Regions from separate parts of the Homo sapiens genome. Here regions 2, 3, 4, 5, 6 and 7 are each linked to region 1. Evidence: fine-mapped expression QTL. A gene starts in region 1. Each other region holds a variant in brackets. All regions are shown on one strand. Distances are between the middles of the regions.

The links. PIP is the estimated chance that this variant, and not a neighbour inherited with it, causes the effect.
Region 2: its variant is the best candidate, but not a certain one, in a credible set for the expression of MTSS1 in subcutaneous fat (GTEx, PIP 0.53).
Region 3: its variant is the best candidate, but not a certain one, in a credible set for the expression of MTSS1 in whole blood (TOPMed, PIP 0.55).
Region 4: its variant is the best candidate, but not a certain one, in a credible set for the expression of MTSS1 in whole blood (TOPMed, PIP 0.53).
Region 5: its variant is the best candidate, but not a certain one, in a credible set for the expression of MTSS1 in whole blood (TOPMed, PIP 0.55).
Region 6: its variant is the best candidate, but not a certain one, in a credible set for the expression of MTSS1 in monocytes (CEDAR, PIP 0.85).
Region 7: its variant is the best candidate, but not a certain one, in a credible set for the expression of MTSS1 in blood mononuclear cells (TOPMed, PIP 0.82).

Annotation. Positions count from the first base shown.
Region 1 is chr8:124,726,919-124,730,985 of GRCh38, reverse strand. MTSS1 (MTSS I-BAR domain containing 1) reads left to right here and starts at 2,513. Exons shown (of 14, transcript NM_014751.6): 1 at 2,513-3,102. The coding sequence starts at 3,031. It overlaps LOC105375741 (a long non-coding RNA gene), which reads right to left and starts at 2,447. Exons shown (of 3, transcript XR_002956670.2): 1 at 920-2,447.
Region 2 is chr8:124,886,107-124,890,173 of GRCh38, reverse strand. No RefSeq gene overlaps it. Among named protein-coding and RNA genes, the nearest start is that of LINC00964, 54 kb to the left of the region's middle. The variant T/C (reference allele first, on the strand shown) is at 1,994.
Region 3 is chr8:124,772,830-124,776,896 of GRCh38, reverse strand. No RefSeq gene overlaps it. Among named protein-coding and RNA genes, the nearest start is that of MTSS1, 46 kb to the right of the region's middle. The variant A/C (reference allele first, on the strand shown) is at 1,820.
Region 4 is chr8:124,628,156-124,632,222 of GRCh38, reverse strand. All of the region lies in intron 3 of MTSS1 (MTSS I-BAR domain containing 1), which reads left to right. Among named protein-coding and RNA genes, the nearest start is that of NDUFB9, 91 kb to the right of the region's middle. RefSeq lists enhancers at 1,845-1,914, 2,121-2,415, 2,575-2,624, 3,798-3,847, 3,878-3,937. The variant C/T (reference allele first, on the strand shown) is at 2,380.
Region 5 is chr8:124,792,292-124,796,358 of GRCh38, reverse strand. No RefSeq gene overlaps it. Among named protein-coding and RNA genes, the nearest start is that of MIR4662A, 28 kb to the left of the region's middle. The variant C/AC (reference allele first, on the strand shown) is at 1,616.
Region 6 is chr8:124,760,264-124,764,330 of GRCh38, reverse strand. No RefSeq gene overlaps it. Among named protein-coding and RNA genes, the nearest start is that of MTSS1, 34 kb to the right of the region's middle. The variant T/C (reference allele first, on the strand shown) is at 1,595.
Region 7 is chr8:124,750,617-124,754,683 of GRCh38, reverse strand. The region is part of intron 2 of LOC105375741 (a long non-coding RNA gene); the gene reads right to left. Among named protein-coding and RNA genes, the nearest start is that of MTSS1, 24 kb to the right of the region's middle. RefSeq lists an enhancer at 2,347-2,888. The variant A/C (reference allele first, on the strand shown) is at 2,389.

The sequences.
Region 1 (4,067 bases):
CTATTGTCGCAGAGGCAGATTCTATAACCTGAAACCCCTCCTGCCATAGCCACGTAGACACAGTTGGTAAAATGTAATCAGAATCTCTTTAAATATATGCAGAGCCAGTCTAAAAGAAGGGAAGTCCCCAACAGCCAGAAACAAAGGAGAATCTGAAAACAAGGAAAGAATGTATGACAGCTGGCCAGGCACAATGGCTCACGCCTGTAATCCCAGTACTTTGGGAGGCCGAGGCGGGTAGATCATCTGAGGTCAGGAGTTCGAGACCAGCCTGACCAACATGGAGGCTGAGGCAGGAGAATCGCTTGAACCTGAGAGGTGGAGGTTGCAGTGAGCCGAGATCGCGCTACTGCTCTCCAGCCTGGGTGACAGAGTGAGGCCCTGTCTCAAAAAAAAAAAAAAAAAAAAAAAATTGCCAGGTGTCACTCCCACTTTCCTGCATCTGGGAACACTTTTCCAGCCTCCCTTTCAAGGAGTTCTCATGAGAGACAAGGGCCTGGTGGTCAGGCCCAGGGAAAAAGGCCACAAGAGAGGTATGCTTTGGCAAACATTGCTAAAGTTGGGGTATTTGGGGCATTGAAATTTAAGCATGTGGCAGGAAAGCTAGACCAAGTGTCCACTGGGCTAAGGCCCCTTATCCCAGGAGTTCAGGAGGCTGGGTAAAAGAGAGACCTGGGGCATGGAAGTCAGAAAACCAGGGTTGGATTCCTTCCAACAGTGCAACAAGGACCAGAATGATAATTTCCTTCAAGTAGACATAATACGTATAAAATGCCCAGAATGCACACAGTAGACCCTCAGCAATGTGCCTGGGACAGCACACCAATGTTACAGAAGTGAAATGGGGCCAGGGCTGGACCTGAGCCTTGGCCTCATCCCTGCTTCTTCTGTTGATAAGATTTATCGAATGATTACTTACGAGATGCCAGGTACCACTTGAAGTGCTTTCATCGATCAGCTCATGTAATGTTCAGAACAGCCCTATCAGGTAGAAGCCATCATTATCCCCATTTACAGATGGATGAGGAAACTGAGGCCCAGAAAGGTTAAGTAACATACCTAAAGGCATACAGTTAGTAGGTTGTGAACTGGAGTTTGAATCCAGGCAATCTGGCTCTACAAGCAGTCATCTTGATAGTTAGAATACCAATAGTATTAAAATCACAATAATGATTGGCAGCAAACGATGTGTCAAGCACCCGTTATTGGCAAGGTGAAGATGAGTCGGATGCATTCGAACGCCCTTGGGGACAGGATCCAGCAGGGGTGATCAAGAGATCAGTTACTTCCTGAAGGTAACACCCTTCCGGGTGATTTCGGGGAGACGGATGGGGAAGGTGGGTTGCAGTTAAGAGTTGGGCAGAGTGATCCAGGGGAACATTATCTTCTGCAGCTGTGCTGTGTAACTCCATGCATCCCTTTGATCCATAAAGTTTTCAAAGCCAGACCTTTTCCCATTACGGAGTGAATCTGACACAAGTGTACAGAATTTTGCACTTGGTTTCTTTTGGCCCCACTCCCCCCAGTCTTTTCTTTTGTTATGTTTTGTGCTTCAAATGGTTAGCTCAAGGGTTAAAGGAACTGTCCGGAGTTAGGTGCCTATGTCTTAATATCTTTTAAAAGTTGCTCATTTGATTCTCCTCCCTCTGGCCCATTTGGCGTTCATCTGAATGAGGGCTCCTGGTTATGCAGATAGGCAGTGGAGCTGTGAAAATGGACCACTAGGCCCCAAATCAACCTGGGCACATTTGCGCTCTGCAGGTTCAACCTCCCAGGAGGGCTCCCTGCGGTTATACCAACGCTGGCTGCTCTCAGTGGGCCTGAAAACCATCAACCGTCCAAGTCATAGGCAATCAGCAATCTCGATAGACTGATGGATCGTGGACAGAAGCTCTAACGCTGTTTCCATTCATTTAGCAACAGCAAATCAATCCACTTTCCCAGCATCCTGCAACTTTATCGAACTCGGCATCCCATTGCAGGATACGCCCCCGAACTCTCCTTAATTATATATTTCGCTATTTGCAATCAGGACTCGGCGATGCAGTCCTGACATCAGAGAATGGGCGTCTTCTCAGAAGGCCGCAGTAGCGGCAGCAGCTTTCCCGCCCTACTGAGCGCTCACTACAAGCGGGCTCTGGGCTAGGCGCGCCACCCGTGCAAGTCCCCGGGGAGCGGCGGTGCACCCTCCGTCCCGCGCGCTCGCAGCCATTGTAGGGGTGGGCGCTCGCCAGGCAGGGTGCCGACACGCCCTCTCCGCGCTGCGACGGGCGGCCGGGGGAGGAGAGGGTGCGCTGTGCGCACCGGAGGGAGAGGCTCCGGCCCAGCGCCGCCTGCCCGCCAGCAGACCAGCAGGCTCCTCTTTGCGGCGGGTGCCCCACGCGCCTCTCGGGCGCGCGCTCCCAGCCCCGCCCGCGTGCGGCGGCCGCACGGCCGCGAGAGCGCGCCTCCGCTTGGCGGGCACGGCCGCGAGCGCGCGTGCGCCCCTCCGAACGTCCCCGGGAGCCCAGCCAGAGCGAGCGCCGGGGCCGGGCGCGCAGGAGTGAAAAGGAGGCGGCGGCCGCAGCTGCGAGCAACAGATCCGGACGCCGCGAGCTGACCCGCTCTGCTGTTGGGCGATTTTTTTTTAATTGCAGAAAAATTTATTAAATTGGAAAATCTTGCGTTTTTCAATGGCGCTGGCCCCGGGTCAGCGGGCGATTTTCTCTGCATCAAGATGGGCTTTGCCGTTTCCGTAGTGGGCACCAGTGGTGGCCTGATTGTCAGTCTTCTCCCGGCATTTTTAAGGCCAGGAGCCGAGCGCTGCTTGTAGGCGAATACCCTACAGAGCGGTTTGGCTTTTTAAATTACTGTTATTATTTTGGGCAGAGAACAGTCGGTCTGGTGCACCCCGTCCTCGCTGCAGAAGAGGCTGCGAGTCCGAGGTGGGTCTCTCGGAAGGTGAAATTCCTTCTGGGGTGAGCGAGCCCCGGCCCCGCGCGCAGTCCAGCGGCCCCGCGTGTGTGCCCTCGCCCTGCCGGAGCCGGGAAAATGGAGGCTGTGATTGAGAAGGAATGCAGCGCGCTCGGAGGCCTCTTCCAGACCATCATCAGCGACATGAAGGTAGGACGCCGGGGGTGCGGCTGCGGCGCCGGCCGCCGCGCTCTGACCTCGCCGCCGCGCTTCGCCTCCACCCCGGGCCGGGCACCCGGCCCTTCCCTGCAGTGTGGCCACCGGCCACCTGCGGGAGCTCCCGGCCGGAGTGTCACCTGCTCACCCGGGGCGCTGCTCCGGGCTCTGCGGGGTCACTGGGCGGGTGGCTTCTCTGGGGGGTGTCTGCTGTCCCACGCCATCTCCCCCGCTCATTGTCCCAGGGGGCGGCACCATTTCTTTCCCTCGGGGGCTCAAGGCACTGGCTGCAAGTTTTCCCATTGTCTGTCCCTGAAGTAAGTGTCTGGGACCCGCGGGGGCTGGATGCCCGGGAGGACACCTGATTCCTCCGGGCACGGGGTGGGGGCGCCTGGCGCGGTGGTGGGGAGGAAGTGGGGGCTCTGCCCGCTCGCAGGAAGGAGTCCCCTAGCCTAGGAGACTGAGAGGGAAAGCCAGTCCCTCCTTGGCTGTCAGGTCTACTTGGAGTGGGGTATCTGAGCAAATTAGTTATTAATTGGGCCGTTCCGAAGCTGGTAAAGGTGTGCGTGCCCTCTCTTAGCCCTCCCGCGGGGCGCGGGGCCGAAGTTCCCGGGCAGCCTTGCAGGGGCCCCGCCTTCTCCCAGCTGAGCCTAAAGGCAAGATTGGGGCCCCCGAAATAACTGTATCCTGCCCTCCCAGACCCAAACGGACACACACTCTAGGTTTTCTCTTGGAAGGGTTGTGAAGATGGTGTGTGTGTGCGCGCGTGCATGTGTGTGTGCGCGCGCGCGCGTGGGGGCGGGGAACAACACCCTGGTTTTTTCCTGCAAAGGGTGGGACTGGGGATAACCTGATCCTCGGATGTGGATTTTCTGGTGCCTAGAGATAGACCAGGGCCCCGTGTTATTCATCCAGAGGAAATAAAACCAGCCGCGCGAGCTGGCTGGAGGTGGGAATTG
Region 2 (4,067 bases), 160 kb before region 1:
AGATTGTTCTGACCTGTTCTCCTAACAAGAGATAGGCTATGCTCAAAAATGATAGTCCCCCATCCAAGTATTCAGAATGAAACAAATTTTGAAAGTCAACAGATTAAACCCCTTTAATCTACCTGTCCAGTAGAGTTCTTCAGCTTTCAGTAACATGGTAGAAAATATCTTTGAATGGATCATTAGATTAGATTTCCCATTAGGGGAATCCAAGTTGAATCAATGATGAGAACTCAAATAGAAAATCTAGACTTATAAAGTGAGTTTTCCTGAATTGCAGTGAGGAATCTTTCATCTTCTAGCTTTAATTATTTTCTTTTGTTTGCATTTAAAAATGTGAGTGACCTTGAACAATTTCAAAGCGTAACAGGGACACTGTGGGGCTGGGGTGAAGACCCTAGCCTGAGAATTGCGAGGCTGGGGTCCCAGTTCATACCTGCTGTCAACTCATTTTAGACACTGTGTCAAGTCATCTTGCCTCCTTGAGACTCAGTTTCCTCTTCTATAAAATGAGAGGGTAGAGCCAACAATCCCCACATTATTGGCCTTTTGATCTTTTTATGGCCATTCTCTCCCACCAAACCAGAAGCACCTCTAGAGTTGAGATTTGGCTTTTTCACTATTACATCCACAGTGACCAAATATGCATTAGTTCAAGTGAATGAAATGGAAGATCTCGCCAGTTCTAAATTCAGAAGTGTCCTCAATATTGCCTTCCCTCATGTTCCGCACATTCAATAGGCACAAGGCTGGGATGCATTATCCAAATTTCCTCTTTGGGACGGAGGCCCTCATGCCCAGAGATGCTGGGAGTGTCGTGTGTCCCCACCCCTACCCCACAAAGAGAGCTACCTGGCTAAAGGTTATGCTCCTTTCCTGGGGCACCTTGCATTCAGTGACTGGTCAATGAAGGGGTATAAATGCTTGTTTCCCTTTGCTGCAAGGCAGGGCCATCCCAGCTCCAGAGATCCCTGTGGGATCCACTGACAGCCTTTGTTGCAACTGTAACACAGGCCACCTTCTCCCTCTGCCCAGTCCTGCTTCTTTCCCTTCTGAGGTTGTTCATCTTGAGATTCCCCCCTTCCCCCAGTGAGTTTCCATCTCGACGTCCGTTTCCCCAGAAACCTAACCTGTGACAGTTGGTGCCAGGAATGACCTTAGGAAAGAGACTCTGAGAACTCCATCACTGGTGGCAGGTAGAGCAACAGCAGTCCCTGTCATGTGCACCAATGCAATTGACACTGTCCCCAGTGGTGAACTGGGATAGTACACCAGGTGGGAGCAATAGATCAGGCTAAGCTTGTGGACAGAGTAGTATAGACACAATAGAATTGGATGGCTGTTGTTGGAGAAAACAGATCCTTTTGAACAGGAAAAAAAAAAAAAAAAGACCCTCAATGATAAGAGGCTGAAGGTGTTTTATCAGCAATTAAAGGCTAAATGTGAAAGCCAGAGGGCCTCTTGTCAGCATACAAGAAACTCTTGAAGCCAGGAGAGAAGATAGAGCTGAGGATAAGGACCAGGATTAATCATAAAAGTAGCCAGATTCTCAAGAAGTTTACATTCCCGAATAGAGCAGAACTGCTGCGGCAAAGTCAGGATCTAATGAGAAAAAATGGGGCCCTGAGATGCAGTGGGGATATCTATGCCAATGTCTCTAGATAACTCGGAGCCCTCAGGGCCTGCAGACGCAGCCCACAGCTCCCTGTTCCAGGTTCTCCTCCCCACGCTCACAAGATGACTCAGAGGCCTCTACCTTGTAACTCTCTCTCCCCAGGACTTTCCTCCACCTCCCTCCTGGCACTAGATCAGGAGCTACGAGGTTTGTCACAATGTAACTCAGACAGGGAAGTCCTGGGTCCAGCAAGGAAGGAATAGCATTATCCACCAAGTGAGCTGGGTGTGGGACATGGTCTGCACAGTCTGCACGTACAGTCAGAAGCAAGAAGGAATAGGACTGGATCTTGAGAGTGCTGGGTCCAGAGGATCAGAA[T/C]GTCAAGCTGGCTGAGGTAGTGCTTATCAGCACTGGGGCACTCTATCATAATGTGGGATTTAACATCGTGGCAAGGACTGTGAAAGATGGTGCTGCCATACTGCTAGAATGGTCCTGGGAAGCTCTGAGAAAGCCTAGCCAACACCAGGTGACAGAATGCCAGGTCATGGTGGCAGATTTGGAAGGAGTCAAAATATCCGAGAAGAGGACATGCTAGAATGGATATACTTTTAAGGCCTGAAAACCTCCTGCAGAGAGGAAACTCTATCTAGCAAAGTACTAAGAAATGCTCTGGTGTTAGGGTGCTGGTATTTCTGAGAAGCTCAGTGGTAGCCCTCCTCTGAAGACCACAGCTAGTGGTAGGAGATGTAGTAACCAAACTGGGTTCCTGGTAATGAGAGAATCCTAAAAGAATAAAGGACAGATAGTGCTTAACCAACAGAAGTAAGATCCATGCAATTATTATAATTAGTGGCAAAGTAATATTGTGTCCTAGGAGGGCTTGGGGGAGCCCACGGTGACCAACCATTCTGGTTTTCCCAGGGCTGAGGGATTTCCAGGGAGGTAGAATGTTCAATGTTAAAACAGGGACAGTCTCTGCAAACCAGGATGGTGATCATCTTAGCGGTGGCCCATCTAGAGCAGGGATGGCTAAAAAAATAAGGCATACTGGTCAGGCATGGTGGCTCACACCTATGTTCCCAGCACTTTGGGAGGCCGACGGGGGTGTATCACCTGAGGTCAGGAGTTCAAGACCAGCCTTGCCAACGTGGTGAAACCCTGTCTCTATTAAAAATGCAAAAAGTAGCTGGGTGTGGTGGCGGGCGCTTGTAATCCCAGCTACTAGGGAGGCTGAGGCAGGAGAATCGCTTGAACCCAGGAGGTGGAGGTTGCAGTGAGCCAAGATGGCACCACTGCACTCCAGCCTGGATGACAGAGCGAGACTCTGTGTCAAAACAAAAAAAATAAGGCATACTTAGGAGCAAGAGAGACGGACAGACTTGGAGGATACTGCTCAATATACAATCAGGACGTTAAGGGCAGCTAACCCAATACAAAGTAAAGATCCCTTGCTCAGTTTTCAGAACTAAGCCTATATTCAAACTCAGAACACATTGACTGAGAGAGAGGCCGAGTACCCAGGAGGAAGGTCCTGCGACACCATGGCAAACATATCTGGCAGTGATTTCCCCAGTCCTTTCCCAAAGCGATCTATGGCCATTTACTCAGGTAATTACACCCAGGGGAAAGGGAGACAGCTGAATATTTCAAGGATTACTGGACATAGGGTCCAACATATCATTGATATTTAAGACCTGAAGGGTTGACATGTTCCTGCCGGTAGATTTGGGACCTGAGTTACCAGGTAATAAATCGAGTCTGGCTCACTATGTTTCCATGGGGTCCACAGAAGAACCTAGTGGCCACTTCTCCAGTCCAAATGTACAATTTGAGTGGGTATACTTGGCAAGTCACTGAGCACCCACGTTGGTTCTTTGGTTTGTGAAGTAAGAGCGAGTGTAGTGGGTAAGACCAAGAGAAAGCTCTTGAAATTGCCACCTCCCGACAGCCAACATGGTTAACTAAATTAATACTGTGTCCCTGGGGGGACAGTAGAGACTAGTGCTACCCTTAAAGGCCTAAAAGCGCGATTCTTGACCATGACTCCACTTAATTCTCTCATCTGCCTCCTCCAAAGTCTAGATGCATCCTGCGGGATGATAGTGGACTCCTGCAAAGGTGTTATTTCAATTGTAGCTGCTGGGTCAGAAGTTGGATCTGAATTAGAGCCAGCTAGCTTGGTCTCAGGCACACTGGAGGCTGCCACTGATTTGGCAAATGGGTCTTTTTTTTTTGGAGGCAAAGTATTGCTCTGTCACCTAGGCTGGAGTGCGGTGGAGCGATCTCAGCTCACTGCAACCTCAGCTGCCTCCTGGATTCAAGTGATTCTTCTGCCTCAGCTTCCCAAGTAGCTGGGGTTACAGGCATGTACCACCACACCCAGCTAATTTTTTGTATTTTTAGTAGAGACGGGGTTTTGCTATGTTGGCCAGGCTGGTCTCGAACTCTTGGC
Region 3 (4,067 bases), 46 kb before region 1:
TATTCTTAGTAGAGATGGGGTTTCACCATGTTGGCCAGGCTGATCTCGAGCTCTTGACCCCGTGATCCTCCCGCCTCGGCCTCCCAAAGTGCTAGGATCACAGGTGTGAGCCACCGTGCCCGGCCCATATTATTCTTAAAAATAAGGAAAACAACCAAAAGATAGTGGACTCTTATAAAATCCCCTTGGGAGCCAAAATTCCTTGGACCCATGAAAACAGTGTTCATCTGCTGACTTTGTCAAATGCCAAAGGAAGCAGCTCCAAAACAGAAATGTCTGTCAGAAGTCACTGTGGAGGGCTGTCCTCTGTCTTCAGAGTGCAGAAGGCACACAGAGTCTGTCTGCCGAGTGAAAGCTGCAGGACCAGCCCGAAGACCCGGAGTGGTACCCCAGGCAGCAAGGAGAATAGGAATCCAACAGAGAGGAGCGGTCACCCAACTTGCTGCCAGCAGGAGAAAAGCCTTTTCCCCACCCCAGCCACTGAATTTCTACCAAAACCAGGCCAAAAGACGGGTACATCTAACACCCCACCTCCTGACCCACGCCACACACATCCATCCATCCCAGCTCTGGGCACAGACTAGAACTGGAAGAAGGAAGGTCTTGTTGCCAAGAGACTGTGAATGCTTATGTCCATTCAACTATTTTAATGAATTTCTGATGTGCTGCCAACATGACTGACCCCTGCCTTTTGCCAAGGGCAACTGGCTGGGACCCTTCCCTTCCCCTCCCAGTAGGGACCCCTCGGCCTGTGGCCCAGCTGTGGCCCTGAGTGACTGCTCCACTTTGGTACCGTCCTTAGCTGGCATCCTGTTAGAATCAAGGCTGCCTCAGCAGCTATCCTCAGCCTGCAGAGAGTCATGAAGGGAAGACTGCCTCCTCTCTGGGCCACTGCATCCCTTTCTAGTTCCTTCAAGAAAGGGTGTAAATCTTGGACACTCCATTTTTTTTTCTTATGGAAAACTGAACTCTTATGCTAAGGCCTACATTTCCTGCCATGAAAGCCTTCCCTGTAGACTTCCCGGGGCCGCAGTCTCCACAGCACTTTGCTGGGCTTTTCCCAGCACTGATCTCATCACTTTGCCATCAAGTGTCACCCTGCTTCTCTGTGAGCTCAGGAGGGGAGAGGCTGTGGCGTATCATTCCTGTAGTTTCAGCACCAAGCACAATGTCTGACAGCACGTGGAGTTCAATAAACACTGGAATGAATGAATAGATGAGATAAGCTGGGGCAATACAATTCAGGCTGATGGAGGCCAACAGAGTCAGGACAGGATATCGGGATTCAGTGATTTGTTCTGAGACAAAGCTGAGTGGCTGACCTCCTAGTCTAAACCACCCTCAGCTAGCTGGGCACGGTGGCTCACTCCTGTAATCCCAGCACTTTGGGAGCCTGAGGCCGATGGATCATCTGAAGTCAGGGGTTCGAGATTAGCCTGGCCATCATGGCGAAACCTCGTCTCTACTAAAAATAAAAAAAAAAATTAGCCGGGTGTGGTGGCAGGTGCCTGTAGTCCCAGCTACTTGGGAGGCTGAGGAGGGAGAATGGCGTGAACCCGAGAGGCAGAGCTTGTAGTGAGCCGAGATCAGGCCACTGTACTCCAGCCTGGGCGACAGCAAGACTCCATCTCAAAAAAAAAAAAAAAAAAAAAAAGACAGCTTGGAGTCCAGGACAGCAGGAGTGACATCTGTTATGAGTCAGCCTGAAGCTCATAAGTTAATTTTCCTAAGAAGCAGCCCTAGTTACATCACTGGTCTGCCCCACACCTTTAATATCTTCCCATCACCTATCAAGAGAAAGTCTTCCTTGGTGGAAGCC[A/C]AACTGCCACCCCCCAAGCATATTTCCTGCATATTTTGCATACATCCTACCCTCCATTCGATACACTCTTTACCCTTCTTCCAACATACAGCTCAAGTGCAGCTTCTACCCTTTGTTCACATTGCTATTCCTCCACTGGAATGCCCTCTCTACTTGATCCCTGATTCAGTCTTTCCATCTTTCAGTGATTCCAAATGCCATCCCTCCTTCAATCATGCTTTTGCTCATCCCCTAAAACTCAAGTGATGTTTCATCCCTTTGAACTTGTATTTATCTCTGAGGTAGGCATTAAAGGCCAAGGTTCAAATCCTGGTGTGTTGGTATGGTGGTTAATTTTATGTGTCAACTTGACTGGGCTAAGGGATGCCCAGATAGCTGGTAATACATTATTTTGGGGTGTGTCCGTGAGGGTATTTCTGGAAGAGATTAGCATTTGAATCAGGAGACTGAGTGAAGAAGATTCACTTTCACCAGTGTGTGCAGGCATCAGCCAATTCATTGAGCACCCGAATGGAGCCAAAAGGTGGAGGAAGGACACATTCTTTTCTGCTTGAGTTGGGATATCCATCTTCTGCACTCAGACATCAATTCTCCTGGTTCTCAGAACTTTGGACTCAGACTGAGACTTAGACTATTGGCTTCTGCAGTACTTAGGCCTTCAGGCCTGGACTGGAACTATACCATCAACTGTCCTGTGCCTTCATCTTTACAGTGGCTAATTAGGGGACTTCTCAGACTCCATAATCATGTGAGTCAATCCCTCATAATAAATCTCTTTCTATATATCTCTACTTCTTCTATTGGTTCTGTTTCTCTAGAGAACCCTGAGTAATACAGTAGGATTCTCCCATTTCCTACATGTGTACCTTGAGCAAATGATTAAGAAAACTGGGCCTCTGATGCCTTCTCCATAAAACCAGAAAATCAACTGAGATCATGCACATAAAGTATCCAAGGTTCGTGACACATAATAGAATATCAACGAATGTTTGTTTTCACCTTAGTTGGTCTTGTCTTGTATTACAGTGAGGTAAATAATGTTTCTACCATCCCCAGCTCATTTCTAGAGCAGAAAATCCTGGCAGGAGTTCCCCAGTTTTTGCACATTTAAATGTCCTCCACACTATCGCTAGCACAATGCCTTGCACACAGTAAATATGCAATCAGTATGTGTTGAATTTGGGTAAGAGTAGGGAAAATCAGTAAGAATTTACTTTTAACTAAAATTTAATATCTGAAAGAAATGTACAGAGTTTCTGTAATAAACTAACCTAGGAAGCAGAGACAAATGATAGAACATGACCTCGGGCTCCAAGACTGGATTTTACATTATCTGGCTGTGAGATGCCGGAAAAGCCATTTACTTTATAAAAAAAAGCCTTAGTTCCTGTGTCTTTGAAGGGAGATATTAATAGAACTTACCTCATAGAGTTCCCGGGGAAAAGTAAATGAGATCATACATTGAGTGGACAGCACCAGGTACCTAGGTAGCACTCAATCAAATCAAAACTAGGGTCATTTCTATGGGGATTAAAAGAAGACAAAGATGAAGTATCATGAGAATTAAAGTTACTGAGAAGAGACTGAAATATAAATCTAATTAATTTTTTTGAAGTCCCTAAGTGTGTTCTTTAATTATAACATTTGTTTAATATTTACTTGTTTAATGTTTTTATAAAGAGAAATATTTTATAAACATGGAGTGAAATGTTTTAATTAATATGAGTTGTCCAGAATTGCTAAGAATGCCATCACACCATCATCTTAAGTTCTGTGGAAAGTCTGTATCTAGCTACTAGGATGGCGAGACCGTGCCGCAATTTTATTGTCGTCGTTCATTTATTGAACGCCTACCATATGCCAAGCACTTGACAAAACATACTCAAAGTCAAGGAGCATCCCTAGTGGTCTAGTGGTCAGGATTTGGTGCTCTCAAAGTACAAGGGCAATACATTAAAAAGATTCCTACCAAATTACTCCTTTTTGTACTAAAACTGTAAAACAAGAAAAAAAACAGAAGAGAATTGACACATACGTAGGTCCTTTTATAAGTTCGATGGTAGAAAGGGGAATATCACACACCAGGGCCTGTCGTGGGGTGGGGAGATGGGGGAGGGATAGCATTAGGAGATATACCTAATGTAAATGACAAGTTAATGGGTGCAGCACACCAACATGGCACATGTATACATATGTAACAAACCTGCACATTGTGCACATGTACCCTAGAACTTAAAGTATAATTTTT
Region 4 (4,067 bases), 99 kb after region 1:
ACTGAATCCTTGAACTCCTAAGCTCAAGGGATCCTCCTGCCTCAGCCTCCCAAGTAGCTGGGACTACAGGCATGCACCACCACACCTGGCTAATTATTTAAATTTTTTTGAAGGGATGGAGTCTCGCTATGTTGCCCAGGCTGGTCTCAAACTGCTGGGCTCAAGCGATTCTCCTGTCTTGGCCTCCCAAAGTGTTGGGCTTACAGGAATGAGCCACTGCACCCGGATGCTCCTTAACTTTTCTCCTCTTTCTCTTTGCTTTCTGTTAAAAACCAAATGACACAACCACCATCATCAGCAGCAGGCCCAAAGCTCAGATCTGTTATTCCAGTAGCTGCAGTGGAAGAGCCGAGTGGGTGGACAGGCAGTGGGGGAAGCCTGAGCTTTGCTGCCTCTGCCTTTGGAGGGCCGTGGGTGTGATTCTGTAAGCAGTGGAGAGCCACCCAAGGCACAATGGGATCAGACCCGCTGTAGGAGGTTGGCTAAGCAGTGGTGCTAAAAGCAGTTTGAATTGGAGAGACAGAAGCTGGCAGGCCCGAGGGCTTTCATAGTCAGAACCTGAATGGTGGCTTTGGGAGTGAAGTGAGTGGACTATGGAGGGGATCAGAGAAATTTTAGTGCCAGAGATGCTCAGACTCAGGATGAGATGAGGGGCAGGGTGGCATTGACCAGGAGTTAAGGTCTGGTGCACGGTGAGGTCACCAACAAAGCCTGGGAGCATGGAGGAAAAGGAGAGTTCTGAGGAGGCAGTGGCCTGCGGGCCAGGACAGGGTCTGAGCTGTGCAGCAGTGTCGGGACTGTCGTGTAGCGCTCGTCTTTTCCTAGCACGTGGACGTACTCTTTAGGGTCCAGAAGGGCTCATGTCTTGTGAAATCAGGTTGCTGTGTTTGCTGGCTCTGGAAGTAAAGGGCGTTTTGTGTCATTAGGGAGATTGGTGGGTCAAGGTAGTGACCTTTGTCTGTGCTGTCCTCGGGAGCACCCAGCTGTGGCAGCGTGCCTGGAATCCGAGTCCAGGAGACCTGGCCTGTCCCCGTGCCCCACCTTCCCAAAGCTGCTGATTCCTTACTCTTTGCCTTTGACCTCTGTGCTGCGTGTATGTTTCAGGCTCAAGGGCGAATCCTCAGGGTGCAGGCCAATGAAATGCTCAAGTGCTCTCAGTCCTCCTTATTTTCCCTTTCTTATACACATGTTTCTGGCTCCAGGTGTAGTTGGTAACTTTTTATCTCAGTGATGATGCTGCCTTAAATACATGTGTATTTAGGAACATGCTGGTAGGTGGCACAGCATTGCAATATACCAAGCAGGTTCAGAATGCCATGGCCAAAGGCCTCCAAAGGTTTCCATAATGATGAGAAGTAATGAGAGGCAGAATCTGGTGACTTGGGTTCTAAGCTTTATGTGTTGATAGCAGAGCCAGCTGGTCATTTTTTTTGTATTAGATTTTGTGCTAAGTACTTTATTTGCATTATTTTAATTTCCTCTTAAAACCACCTTGTAAGTAGGTACTGCCCTACAAATGAGACAGTGGAGGCAGGTTGGGGCTATGTAGCTCATTGTAGGTCACATAGAAAGTGAGTAGTGTGGCTGGGGCTGGTACCCGGATGTTTCTGACTCCAAAGCCTGTGCTGTAGACCAGTGCTTCTCAAACTGTCCAGTGCCTGTGAATGGCCTGGAGCCTTGTTAAAAATGTGGGCGGTGATGCAGTGGGTCAGGCAGTGCTGGGGCTCCATGATCTTGCTGCTGGCCCATAGGCCCCCTGAGTCACAAGTGGCCTTTTTCATCCTCTTCTTCCTCCCAGCCTTTCTCCACCTCCTCTTTCAGGTCCTCCCCTCTGTTCCTGCTCCCACCCCACCCCCACCTTTCCTCCCATGTGGCTGACAGTCTGCTCGGGTAGCCCAGGCTGCTTGCCTGTTGGTGACTCTGTTGATGGATGGCTTGCCAAAAGATGTGGTGGCCCCCATTCAGCCCAGTGGCATGGGGTGGGCTTAGACTGGGGCCCTTTAGGGTCCACAACCTCTTTGGGCTCAGGGAGGAAATAGGTCACTTCTGAAGGTGACCTCTTCCAGGGGAGGTAGAGGGAAGTTAACTCTCCCTGGTCATTTAATTAAATGTAAATGCCTTTGGTCTAAAAGTTTTAAGCAATTTTACAAGATGAATTATATTCCATGGAGCAGGTGAAGTATTTCAAGAAGCTTCAGACAGGATTAAGCAAGCGGGGCTGACGCAGCTGGCTTGGCCTTGCCACATCTGTCCTCAGCGACTCAATTCTTTACAGGGTGATGAGTCAGCAGCCACTGGGCAGTAGCTCCATTTAAGAACGCACGGTGTGTGTGATATGTTTTTAAAAGATGACAGTTAAAATGATAAAGACTGGTTATT[C/T]GGATGATTCACTTTGGAAAGGCCCCTGGTTCTTCCCAGATGGAGGGGGGTGGCCTTGTGGTGTGGTGTCTGGGAGAGAGAACCCTCCCCTCAGGCAGGCTGTGGCCTCTGTGTGTTACGATGGAAACTACCTGTCCAGCCTCCAGCAGGACAGGAGGCCACTTAACGTTGGAGGCACTTGGCTGTCTCACCAACCAGGGATGTGGGAACTCGTGTTTCAGGTCTGTTTTAGGGAGAGGTCAGATCTCGGGCTTCAGAGTTAGGTACCGCTATAGCTAAGTATCCAGCTCCAGAATTTCTTTTTTCTTTTTCTTTTCTTTTTTTTTTTTTTTTTTTTTGAGACGGAGTCATTCAGGCTGGAGTGCAGTGGCGTGATCTTGGCTCACTGCAAGCTCCACCTCTGGGTTAACGCCATTTTCCTGCCTCAGCCTCCCAAGTAGCTGGGACTACAGGTGCCCGCCACCACACCTGGCTAATTTTTTGTATTTTTTTTAGTAGAGACTGGGTTTCACCGTGTTAGCCAGCATGGTCTCCATCTCCTGACCTTGTGATCCGCCCGCCTCAGCCTCCCAAAGTGCTGGGATTACAGGTGTGAGCCACCGCGCCTGGCCATCTAGCTCCAGAATTTCTTAGCTGTGTAACTTTAAGTGGCTTAATCTCCTTAATTCGAGCCTTAGTTTTCTCATCTATAAAATGGGGGTGATGATAGTGCTTATGCACAGGGCTGTTGAAAGAATGAAGATGAATGAATGAATGAATGTGTACACAGAGCTTAGGCCTAGGCCTGGCTCATGAGTGCCCAGCACTTGTGAGCTCTCATGATTAACTCATTTCCCTCCTGCCCCAAGGACCCTCTTGGGAAATAAAACCTCCCTGAAGATACTTTGGGATCCTGTAAAATCCGTGTGTGTTACTTTCAGGGTCTGCTGTGGTGTAATGGAAGAAGTGCAGACTTCGGAGCTAGACACCACCTGGCTTTGAGTCCTAGGTCTACCCACCTATGGCAGGTTTCTCTTAGCCTCAGTTTCCCCATCTTTAAAATGAGGATGGGCAATGAAGAATTGCCTCAGAGGGTTGTTGCGAGGATTAGATGAAATTACACAAGGTACTTCTTGGAGTTCCTGGCTCACTGTAGGCATTTAATCCATGCAACTTATTATTTAGCTGACAAAATGCCTATAATTAGATGTTAGGGAAATTGCTGTCATCGATGGGGAAAGTTCCCCAATGGAGTTGGAACTGTTGACTCTGCTGTCCTGGCTTCTCCAAGTCCTGCCATCATTTTCTTCTGCCCCTTCCCAGAGCACCTGCTGTGGGGGCTGGTGGGAGCTCCAGGTTCCACAGCTGAGCCGTGGGGAGCAGAAGACAGAGCTTTCCTGCTAATAAGGATCATAAATGCCAGCCCTGGGCTGGGCAAGCATCCTGCTGCCGGTTCATATCACTGGATTTAGCATCCTGTGGCGGTGGTTTAATTGGAAGAGATAATTGGTGCCGTGTCCTGGGGAGTATGATCTGGGAGTCGGATGATAAGACTGACGCGGCTGATGTCTTGGAGCTCAGACTCGCAGCCTGGGATGGGAAGCACCCGTTCTCAGCAAACTTTTGGTTTCTGTTTGTATTACTGACCTGCTCTGTACTTTTCATCACTGCTAGTTTGTTGCTGTTGTTGTTGTTTTTGAGACAGGGTC
Region 5 (4,067 bases), 65 kb before region 1:
GTAAACACGGCTTGTTGTTTGAGATGGTAATAATCACTGCGGCTCTTTGTTCAGTGTCTTTTGGCTGACTTTCAGTTCATGAGGAAGAGTCTGTATTGAAGCCAATTTGAATTGATTTTGCAAGTAAAATTTCAGGGGACAATGTGCCAGGTGTCTCAGAGAGCTGGAGTCTGGTGGATTCTCTGTCATCTGCTCACAAGAACCCTAACTCACGTTTGTATGGTGAGCCACAGTTTTCAAAGCACTGTACTTTCACATTCGGTATTTCATTCTATCTTCACAATAACATTGTTAGGCTAATATTGTTCTCCTTATTTTGCAATTTTCCGATTTAACAGATGAGAGAAACAATAAGAGCTTAAGGGGTACGCCTAAAGCTATATATATTATTTTACAACTGAGACCATAGAAATACAAAGAATTATTAGAGACTATTATAAACCACCAGGAGGCTGAGGTGGGTGGATCACCTGAGGTCAGGAGTTCGAGACCAGCCTGGCCAACATGATGAAACCCCATCTCTACTGAAAACACAAAAAATTAGCTGGGTGTGGTGGCAGGCGCCTGTAATCACAGGTACTCAGGAGGCTGAGGCAGGAGAATCACTTGAACCTGGGAGGCGGAGGTTGCAGTGAGCCGAGATTGCACCACTGCACTCCAGCCTGGGCAACAAGAGTGAAACTCCATCTCAAAAATAAATAAATAAATAAATATTTAAAAAATAAACCACTATACACCAAAAAATTGGAAAACCTAGAAGAAATGGATAAATTCCTGGACATGCATACAACATACCAAGATTGAACCATGAAGAAATAGAAAATCCCAGCACTTTGGGAGGCCAAGGTGGGCCGATCACTTGAGGTCAGGGGTTTGAGACCAGCCTAACCAATATGGTGAAACCTTGTCTCTACTGAAAAAATAGAAAAATTGGCTAGTTGTGGCAGCGGGCACCTGCAATCCTAGCTAATCGGGAGGCTGAGGCAGGAGAATTGCTTGAACCTAGGAGGTGGAAGTTGCAGTGAGCCGAGATTGCGCCACTGCACTCTAGCCTGGGTGACAGAGTGAGACTGTGTCTCAAAAAAAGAGAAAAGAAATAGAAAACCTCAATAAACCAATAATGAGTAATGAGATTGAAGCCATAATAAAAAGTTTCCCATCAAAGAAAAGCCCAGGATCTGATGGCTTCACTACTGAATTCAACCTTACATTTAAAGAACTAATACCAATTCTATTCAAATGCTTCAAAAAAATTGAAAAGGAAAGAATACTTCTAAACTCATCCTATAAGGCCAGCATCTCCCTGATACCAAAACCAAATAAAGGCACAACAAAAAAAGAAAAATACAGGCCATTATTATTGATGAACATAGATGCAAAAATTCTCGATGAAATACTAGCAGACCAAATTCAACAACATATTAAAAAGATCATTCACCATGAGCAAGTGAGATTTATCCCAGGGATTCAAGGATGATTCAACATACATAAATCAATAAATGTGATGCAACACATAAAACAGAACCAAGAACAAAAACCATATGATTATTTCAATAGATGCCAAAAAAGCATTTGATAAAACTCAACATCCCTTTATGGTAAAAACGATCATCAA[C/AC]TGAGTATAGAAGGAACATATCTCAAAATAATAAAGGCCATATACAACAAATCCACAGCTAACATCACACTGAAAAGGGAAAAATTAAAGACTTGTCCTCTAAGATCTAGAACAAGACAAGGATGTACACTTTCACCACTTTTATTCAATATAGTCCTAGAAGTCCTGGCCAAAGCAATTAGGCAAAAGAAAGAAATAGAGGGCATCCAAATTGGAAAGAAATAAGTCAAATTAGCCTTGTTTATAGATGACATGATCTCATACTTAGAAAAATCTAAAGACTCCACCAAAAAATTGTTAGAACTGATAAGCAAATTCAGTAAAGTTGTAGAATACAAAATCAACATACAAAAATCAGTAGCACTTATATACATAAACAGTGAACAATCTGAAAAAGAAATCAATTCCATTTACAATAGCTACAAAGAATATAAAATATGTAGGAATCAATGTAACCAAAAAAGTGAAAGATCTATACAAAGAAAACTATAAAATGCTGATTAAAGAAATTGAAGAGAATACAAAAAAATGGAAAGATATTCCATGCTCATGGATTGGAAGAATTAATATCGTTAAAATGACAATATTACACAAAGCAATTTACAGATTCAATGCAATCCATATCAAAATACCAATGACAGTTGTCACAGAAATAGAAAAAAATACTAAAATTTATATGGAACCACAAAAGACTCTGAATAGCCAAAGCAATCCTGAGCAAAATGAACAAAGTGGGGGCATCACACTACCTGACTTCAAAGTTTACTACAAAGCTATAGTAACCAAATCAGCATGGTACTGGCATAAAAACAGACATATAGACCAATGGAACAGAATAGAGAACCCAGATATAAATACATGCATTTACAGCCAATCCATCTTCAATAAAGGTGTCAAAGACATATAATGGGGAAAGGACAGTCTCTTCAATAAAAGTTGCTGAGAAGACTGGATATCCATATGCAGAAGAATGATGCTAGACCCCCGTCTCTCATCATATACAAAAATAAAATCAAAATGGATTAAAGACTTCAGTCTAATACCTGAAACTATAAAACTACTAGAAGAAAATAGTGAAGAAATGCTCCAGGACATTGGTCTCAGATTTTTTTTTTCTTTTTTTTGTGACAAAGTCTTACTCTCTCCCCCAGGCTGGAGTGCAGTGGCACGATCTCAGCTCACTGCAACCTCTGCCTCCCGAGTTCAAGCGATTCTCCTGCCTCAGCCTCTCAAGTAGCTAGGATTACAGGCACCCACCACCATGCCTGGCTAATTTTTGTATTTTTATTAGAGACAGAGTTTCACCATGTTGGCCAGGCTGATCTTGAACTCCTGATCTCAAGTGAATGGCCCACCTCGGCCTCCTTAAGTGATGGGATTACAGGCGTGAGCCACTGCGCCTGGCATGGTCTGGGATTTTTTTGTGTAAGACCTCAAAAGCACAGGCAACCAAAGCAAAAACAGACAAGTGGAATTACATCAAGCTAAAACCTTCTGCACAGCAAAACAAAGTTAAGAGATGACCTACAGAATGGGAGAAAATATTTGCACACCACCCATCTGACAAAGGATTAACAATCAGAATATATAAGGAGTTCAAACAACTCAATAGCAAAAACCCCAAATAATCAGATCTAAAAATGGGTAAAACATCTGAATAGACATTTCTCAAAAGAAGACATACAAATGGTCAACAGGTATATGATACACCAGACCTGAAATATAGGAATGAGCATCTATGAAAATAATTGGGGGAGAAGCATTTCAAGCAGAGGAAACAGAGCATGCTAAGGATATATACAGATAGAAGGTAAAGAAGAGAGCGATGTATAGATTTCTTTCTGTTGCTTTTTTTTTAAATGGGTTTATAGAGTTTTATACATTTATTTTAACTTAGTATGTCATAAGCATCTTTTCATGTCATTAAACACTTCCAGGATTGTTTCATTTTGTTTGCTGTTATGAACAATGGTGAATTGAATACCTTGTTTGCAAAGATATCCATCCACTAGAATGGTTATACTAAAGAAGACATTACAAAGGATTGCTGATGATATAGAGCAACTGGAACACTTGTGCACTGGTGGTGAAAGTATAAATTGATACAACTACTCTGAAAAACTCTTTGGCAATATCTACTACAGCTGAGCATACACTTACCCTGTGATTCAACAGTTCTACTCCTGGATATATACTCAACAGAGGTATGTAAATATATCCATCAAAAGATGTGTACAAAAATATTAACAGCAGCACTATTTGTAGTTGCAAAAAACAAAACAGAAACAACCCAAATATCCATCAACAGTAGAGTAATGGTGGAATAGTCATAGAATGAAATCCACATGGTAATTAAAAGTAAACAAACTATAGCTCCACACAACATGAATGAATCTCAAAAACATAATGTTGAGCAAAAGAAACCAGCCACAAAAGGTGGATTCTGTATTAT
Region 6 (4,067 bases), 33 kb before region 1:
ATTGAAAAATTAGCTGGGCATGGTGGCAGGCACCTGTAATCCCAAGTACTTGGGAGGCTGAGGCAGGAGAATTGCTTGAACCCGGGAGGTTGCAGTGAGCCGAGATTGCGCCACTGTACTCCAGCCTGGGCAACCAAGCAAGACTTCACCTCAAAAAAAAAAAAAAAATTGGAATTTGTTTTCAACACTTAAAAATCAGAAAAGTTTACATTTAAAAAAAAATTAGATTTCTGGCTTCTCTTGACAAATTGAAAGATCTGGCAATACGGAGCCTATAGTACCACATGGCAATCATTGTCCAGAAGGCGTGCTGTTTGGTTCATCACGGTTCTTACCCCCTGCCTACTTCATTCTTTCATGTAACTTGACTGACCCCAAAGACATTTGCACCTGAGATCCTTGAAGGAGACAACTGTTGGCCTGTGTGAATTGAAGCCCCTGCCACTTGTGGTATTTCTGAGGATGTGGAAGATCCATGACATAGTATTTTGTGATTTAACTGATGAACAAGTGAATTTGACTCAGGTATAGACATATGAATCAAAGAACGTGAGAAATCCCAAAGAGCATAACATTTGTTCCTAGCTTTACTGAAATCTAAACAGCAAAAACTGTATATATTCAAGTTGTAGAATGTGATTTTTGAAATATGTATGTGTTAGGAATAACGCTAAAAAATTTTAAGGAAATTGAACACTTGAACAAAGGATTTTTAGCAAAGCAATTTTATTTTTGGGCAGAGGGGTGCCTCCTTGGCTAGTCGCCATGAGAGCCCACCTGAACAAAGGGCACGAGAGCCTTTATTTTTGACGGCAAGTCTTGCCCCTGCACTCTTTCCCCATTGGCTGGGGTCAGGCTGTATAATTTAAAATAATCCCAGTTGGCTAAACGTTTGAATTTTTTTAGGTAAGGTGGGCACGTAAAAGAAAGTGGAGAGGAAGGGGAAGGGGTGTGTGTAATGAGCTAGAAAGTTAGTCTTCTTTTTAAATAAGGAAAGGAACGTGAGCTGGTACTGATAATGCCTGTCCTGTGGCGTGCCTGGGCATCTAACAAATGCAAAAAGGAAAAAAAGGAGAAAAAGGAAAAAAAGGTGGGGGGGGGGGCGTTATTATAAATTAAAGAATAAAAGATTGATTAGATTATTTGAAGAGAAACCTCATCATATTCCACATATACATTGGGAAATGATTACCACTATCAAGCTATTAGGTTGGTGCAAAAGTAATTGCAGTTTTTGCCATTACTTTCCCACAACTCAGAACTTACGCAGATGAATGGAAGCCAAGGGCTGACAGGTTTCAGATTTGATGATGAGATTGTAAAGAGATTCAGCATGTAGTGGGATTTGGGTTATACCACATCAAGATCCTGCCCAACACTGAGATTTTATGGTTCTATGGTTTGGGGAACATGTTATCTTTTAGAAAGGATGGCTCTAGGACTGTTGGAAACACACTTTTATAGCCAATGTGCTTTTCAGATGCCCTTATATCCAGAGTCAACCAGGGTAAAATTATGTTCTCACCAGAGTCTTGTTTAACATCTTTCTTCTTCTCTCTTTTGTCTATTTTCCTTGCACTTCTGACACTTCTCA[T/C]TGGATGGTTTGTAGGGCTCAGAGAGCCTGTGGTAATTAAAAAGGCCTGTCTCTGGGGTCAGACTCCAGATTAGCTCTAGAATTCAGCCCTTATGAACTGTGTGATCTTGGGAAAGTGATACGACTTCTCTGGGCCTCGATTCCCTCATCTGTATTATTTGGAGACAATAGTGGTACCTACCTCATGAAGTTGTTGAGAATATTAAGCAATACATCTAAAATAACTATTAGAGGTTCTGCCATGAAGAAAAGGCTCAAAAATATCATCAACAGCAAGACCATTATTATTAAAAGAGTCAGCTCCAGAAGTATTTGTCAAAAGTGACTTGGAAACACTGTGTTCCCTGAGGAAAGGGCCCACATTCTTGTTTATTTTCTAAATTCTTGCCCCTAGCAGAGTTCCTGGTACATGTGGATGCTTAATAAATGTCTGTAAATAGGTAAGTGAAAGAATAAATGAGTGGATGAATCAATAGAGGTTGAAGATTAAGAGATATTTCTGTTGTAAGGTTCTACAGAGGTTCCAAAAGAAGACAAGGAAGGTGGAAGAGGAGGAAAAACACTCACCGAGTGTTGCGGGGAAAACAACAGCTGACGAGGTTAGTCAAAGAGTGATTCATGGGCCAAATAAGCCCAAAAGGAGAAGTTCCCGGTACCACCCCACAACTTGGTGGTGGAAACTTTGAGAATTAGTCAAGAGGGATGGCCCCAAGGGACCGTTTTGTACTGATTTGGGTTTCAGGGTTGAGAGAACACGATGGAAGTTTTCAGAGTGAGGCACTTGGGTAATCTATTTTGGAGGAATTATCTGGAGAAAAGAAAATGAGAACTGCCGGTAACCTTTGTGTGATTGCGTTAAGGTAGGAAGGAGGTGATTCCAGGACATTCTCATAGCCTGGTTTTTCAGGCCCAGTGCGCCGTGGTGTCCCATGCGAATTACAGTTGGAAATTTAACAGTGTGATGACGTGTGAGATAGACTAGCAAAGAAGCAAAGTGTTCATAGTGAAGAGACTGTGTCCTACATGGGAGGGGACTTTTTAAGCAAACTTTTTAAGATATAAGATTGATAAAGGAAAGTACATAAATCAGAAACGTACAATCCATGAATTTTCAAAACATGGAATGTCTACATTGCCAGCATCATGATAGAGAAGTGAGTTCTAAACATAACACACACTGCGCCCATCTGGGATATTTGGCAGAAAAGCAGATTTCTTGGCCCCACTGCGAGAGACTGTGATTCAGTAGATCCAGCGTTTGACCCAGGAATCTGCATTTCTGTCTACACTGCTAGATTCCAGTAAGGGTGGTCCACTGGGTGAGAACAAGCTTCAGAGTCATGCAAACTTGCACTTGGAATCCTACCTTCTCCTTGAGTGAGTAGCTTGACCTTCTCACAAAGACAGTAGGGGCAATAGTACTTCCTCATAGGTTTGCTTTAAGGATTAAATTAGAAAATGCATATAAATCAATAAAAACTGTTGGGCATGGTGTTGACCACACAGTAAGCACTCAGTGAACATAGAAAAGCATAAACGCCCACAAAAAAGACGAGGCTCGGTCCCCAGGTCTTTGTGCCCAGCACCTAGTCCAGAGCTCATCACACAAGGCTAAGGGAGTATGGTGTGAGAGTTAGCAACACGGGTGATATGGTTTGGCTCTGGGTCCCCACCCAAATCTCACCTTGAATTGTATAATCCCCACGTGTTGTGGGAGGGACCAGGTAGGAGGTAACAGAATCATGGAGGCGGGTTCTTCCCATGCTGTTCACATGATAGTGAATAAGTCTCAAGAGATCTGATGGTTTTATAAAGGGGAGTTCCCCTACACATGCCCTCTTGCCTGCTGCCATGTAAGACGTTCGTTTCACCTTCCACCATGATTGTGAGGCCTCCCCAGCCATGTGGAACTGTAAGTCAATTAAACCTCTCTCCTTTATACATTACCCAGCCTCGAGTATGTCTTCATTAGTTGCATGAGAATGGACTAATACAACAGGTTAGCAGTCAGATACCCTGGGGTGTGAGTTCGAGTCCTGGCTTTGCCACTTACTAGTTATGTAATCTTGGGCAAGTTACTTAACAGCTCTGACTCAGTTTCCTTATCTGTAAAATGAGAATAATAACACCTACTTCATAGGGTGACTGTGGGGATGAAATGAGAGAATCAGGAAAGACCTGAGCCCTGAGCCCTGAGCCCTGAGCCCATGGCCTGGTCCCTGCAAAGAGCTCAATAAAAGTTGGCAACTCTATGATTTACAGCTGAAGCTGAGAATGTTCCACCCCTGGGCAATAAAAAGGTACTCCTCAGAGGCATTCTGAGGGGAAACAGGCCCCTCTCTCTGATAACATTAGCTAAATGCTTCTTTGAAAGAGCAGTGTAATAAAAAGGCTAAGAGTTGGATGTTTATTACTAGGCCAAAGTGCTACTACCGTGATTATGGGCCAGGTGGGACTGCCAGTGTTCAGGTGT
Region 7 (4,067 bases), 24 kb before region 1:
GCTCAAGCCTGTTCCCTCTCTCAGACTAACCACTGTGAGCCGGAGAAAGGACTTCCCTGGGTGACTTGGACCTTACTCCAGTGATTCACCACTGGAACCAATGTAGAGGTCAGCTTCACGCAAAGCACATGGCTGAAAGTGGGGGTAGGTGTTTTCCCCAAACCTAAATCAAGCAAGGTAGAAATAGGCAACAAAATAACAGATGTCCAGCCAGGTGTGGTGGCTCACACCTGTAATCCCAGCACTTTGGGAGGCCGAGGCGGGCAGATCACCTGAGGTCGAGAGTTCGAGACCAACCGGACCAACATGGAGAAACCCCATCTCTACTAAAAATGCAAAAGTTAGCCAGGCGTGGTGGCACACACCTGTAGTTCCAGCTACTCAAGGAGGCTGAGGTAGGAGAATCGCTTGAACCCGGGAGGTGGAGGTTGCGGTGAGCCGAGATTGTGCCATTGCTCTCCAGTCTGGGCAACAAGAGCAAAACTCCATCTCAAAAAAATAAAAAATAAAACTATAACAGATGTCCCCTGCAGCTCATTTGAAAGTAATTCAGCCAACATTCCTAACATAATGTGGATTTGCAACAGGTGGGTTTAACAGCAAATTTTGTTTATCACAGCTAAGAATTCCTTTCCTGTGTTTGCCAGCCTAAACAAGAAATAGTTTCTATGAGGTTTTCATTCTTCTTCCACGAGTTCATTTGTCCTTTCAAATATTTTCTGAGTACTAATGAAGACAATAAAAATAGTTTTCACACTTACTAAACACACATATAAAACATTATCTCATTTAATTCTACTACTAGCTGATAAGTTCTCAAGCAGGGGTGATTTTGCTCCCCCAAGGACATTTGGCAATGTCTGGAGACAGTTTTGATTGTCATAGCTCCAGGGCTGCTACTGGCATCTAGTGAGTAGAGGCCTTGAATGCTGCTGAACATCCTGCAATGCACAGGACAGCCCTCCACAGCAAAGAATTATCCAGCCCCCAGTGCCGATAGCATGGAGATTGAGAAAACTTATACGTGCTCGTGACACTATCTTCACTTCTATAGATGAAGAAAAATGAAGCTTAGAAAAGTTAAGCAACTTGTCCAAGCTTATGCAAGGTACGAAGTAGTAGTGGTTGAGATTTTCATCCAAAGCCCTTGCTTTTATCTGTTGATAATTAAGCTTGGAATTGGAACTCAGTGTCCCTCCACTCTATCCCCACCCACTCTAAATTCTGGGTCAGTGGATTGGTACCCATAGGCGTTACTGTAACAGGATTGCGGATGATGTCAATGTAAGCAGCTGACAAGTGTTTGGAGCCCCTGCAAGGAAGAGGCCCTGCACACATTGGTGCCAGGCCTGGGGGAGGCAAAGATGTGTGGTCTCTCGAGGAGACAGGTTCATGGGCTGCTATGACACACAGTGGGATGAAAGCATAATGACTGCCATTTCACACCTCCAATCTTGGTACATGCTTTCTCCTCTGCTTGGAATTCTTTTTGCTCTTCTCTTTTCTAACTTCTCATCCTTTAAGCTCATCTAGAAAGCTTGCCTACCCTCCCTCTCTACAGTCTGTTTCAGGTGTCCTCTGTGGTCCCATAACATACTAAACAGAATGGAACAGTTCCACTCGTCACACAATACTGTAGTTAGAATTTGACTTGGCTGTGTCTCATCCCCTGGACTATCAGCCACCTAAGAATGGAACCCACAGCCATGAACCTTTGTGCCCAGCCCAGTGCCTGGTGGTGGGGTATTTGCCACAAATTACTATTTGCTGTTCGTCTATTCTAGGAGTCAGCAAACTTTTGCTGTGAAGTGTTAGATAATAAATATTTTAGGCTTTGCAAGCCATCTATCATCGTAAATACTTAATTGTTGTTGTAACACAAAAATATCCATAGAAAATATGAAAATGAATGAGCTTGGCTGTGTACCAATAAAAGTTTATTTACAAAAGCAGGCGGTGGGCCAGATTTGGCCTGTGGGCCACAGTTTGCTGACTTTTGTCTATTAAAATAACCATTCTTCCATCAGTATGTCCCCATAAAATTTTAGATGTGCACATTGCTGCCAAACAACCTCCAAAATACAGTTATATTTTCCAGCCAAATATGGACACGTGAATAAATTCTAGCCAATGTATTTGGAGAAGCATTATTTGGGACTCCTTGGAAGGCTGTTTAAAAGCAGGTGATTCATTTGGGAAAGGCCCCTTTCCTCCCTTCTGTTTTTCCTCCTTCTTCCAACCTATGAAGGGCTCCAGGTATCATCTCAGGCCGTGAGGTGACTTTGAATAAAGAAACCGCAAGCAAGGAAAGGAGAGCAGAAAGTAGGAGCCAGAGTCCCTGACAACACCAGGGAGCCGCCATGCTTTTCCTGCATGGCCAACCTGTAG[A/C]CTTTACATGAGAGAAAAATGAACCCTGTCTTGTTTAAGCCACTGCATGTGTTTGTGTTATTATTGGCATGAGAACGTAATCTTAACTATATACCATCGCGTGGAAACACTCAACAAATATCAGAGCAGTGAGAGGAACGCTCAAAGCATCAGGGAGAGCCACAGAGGAAATGAGTTCTGCTGGGTGGGTAGGGAACCATGGAAACAAACACAGGGGCCTCCTCAGGCTCTTCATGGTTAAGCACCCAGGGTGATTCACATCTCTGGCCAGTTCCTTCCGGCCTCTTTCTTCCTCCCTACAGGGGACTTTCTTTTTATAGTGTCTTCCATCAGCTACTCTATCTTTGGAGGCATCCTTCTTCAAGTTTGTATGTCATAGAGAATTCAGTTTGCTACAAGAGATTGTTCTGTTTCTTGTCAGTTTTACTTACTGGACACCAAGGAAGAGCAGCTGGAAGAATCTCCTAAGTGACAAAAGAGCAGTGCCTACCAGAGTGAGGACACGGAACAGGTCCTTCTTGCCATGGTCACTGATGTGATTGCCTTCTGTTGCCAGCAGGTGGGTGGCAGAAAGGGGAAAGCCTGGCTCTAGCATCAGATAACCCTGAGTTTAAATAATGACTCAGTCTCTGGGCAGTGTGGCATTGGCCAAGCCACGTCATTTCCCTAAGAGTCAGTTTTTCTTTCTTTTTTTTTTTTTTTTTTTTTTTTGAGACGGAGTCTTGCTCTGTCGCCCAGGCTGGGTGCAATGGCGCCATCTTGGCTCACTGCAAACTCCGCCTTCCAGGTTCACGCCATTCTCCTGCCTCAGCCTCCAGAGTAGCTGGGACTGCAGGTGCCCGCCACCATGCCCGGCTAATTTTTTGTATTTTTAGTAGAGACGGGGTTTCACCATGTTAGCCAGGATGGTCTTGATCTCCTGACCTTGTGATCCACCCACCTTGGCCTCCCAAAGTGCTGGGATTACAGGTGTGAGCCACCGTGCCCGGCCAAGAGAGTCAGTTTTTCAAACTACAAAATAAGTCAATCATCACTTTCTCATAGCACTGTTATAAGAATTAGACAGTGAAAGGGTGGCCGGCACAGAGTGAGGGTTCAAATGATGGTTCTGGAAACCCCTCTCTGCCTGCTACCCTGACGATGAGGATGAGAACTTGGCATTTGGGTGGATCCCATGCCACTGCTTTGGAAGGGCAAAACCCCCCAGCTTTCAAACTTAACACTTCCTTCCTTTCCTCTTTTCTTAGCCTGTCGCCACACAATTGAACTTCCTTTGTATTCTTTCACTCGCCTTTAAAGTGCTAGCAGAACAATCATTAGAATCAGTAAAAAAAAAAAAAAAAAAAACCCTATTTTTTTCCCTGACATTATTTCATACAACCAGCCTCACTTGAGTCCTGCAGAGACATCCAGTGCCACAAGGACATTCTCAATGTCACAGTTACTGGCCACGCACTTTCACTTTCCGATGAATGAGGCCTTGGCACGGTCATCTCCAACTGAACAAGTGGTCACATGACACTTTAAACCTGGAGGCCATTTCCATAAAGGTGTCTTACAAATACAAAATAGTCCACATCCCAGGAGAGGTCTGAAAAAGCTATTAGTGCTATGCAGTGGAAATGAACAACCCAAAAAAAGCTGCCAGCAACGAACAGGACCCCACGGCATCCAGTATG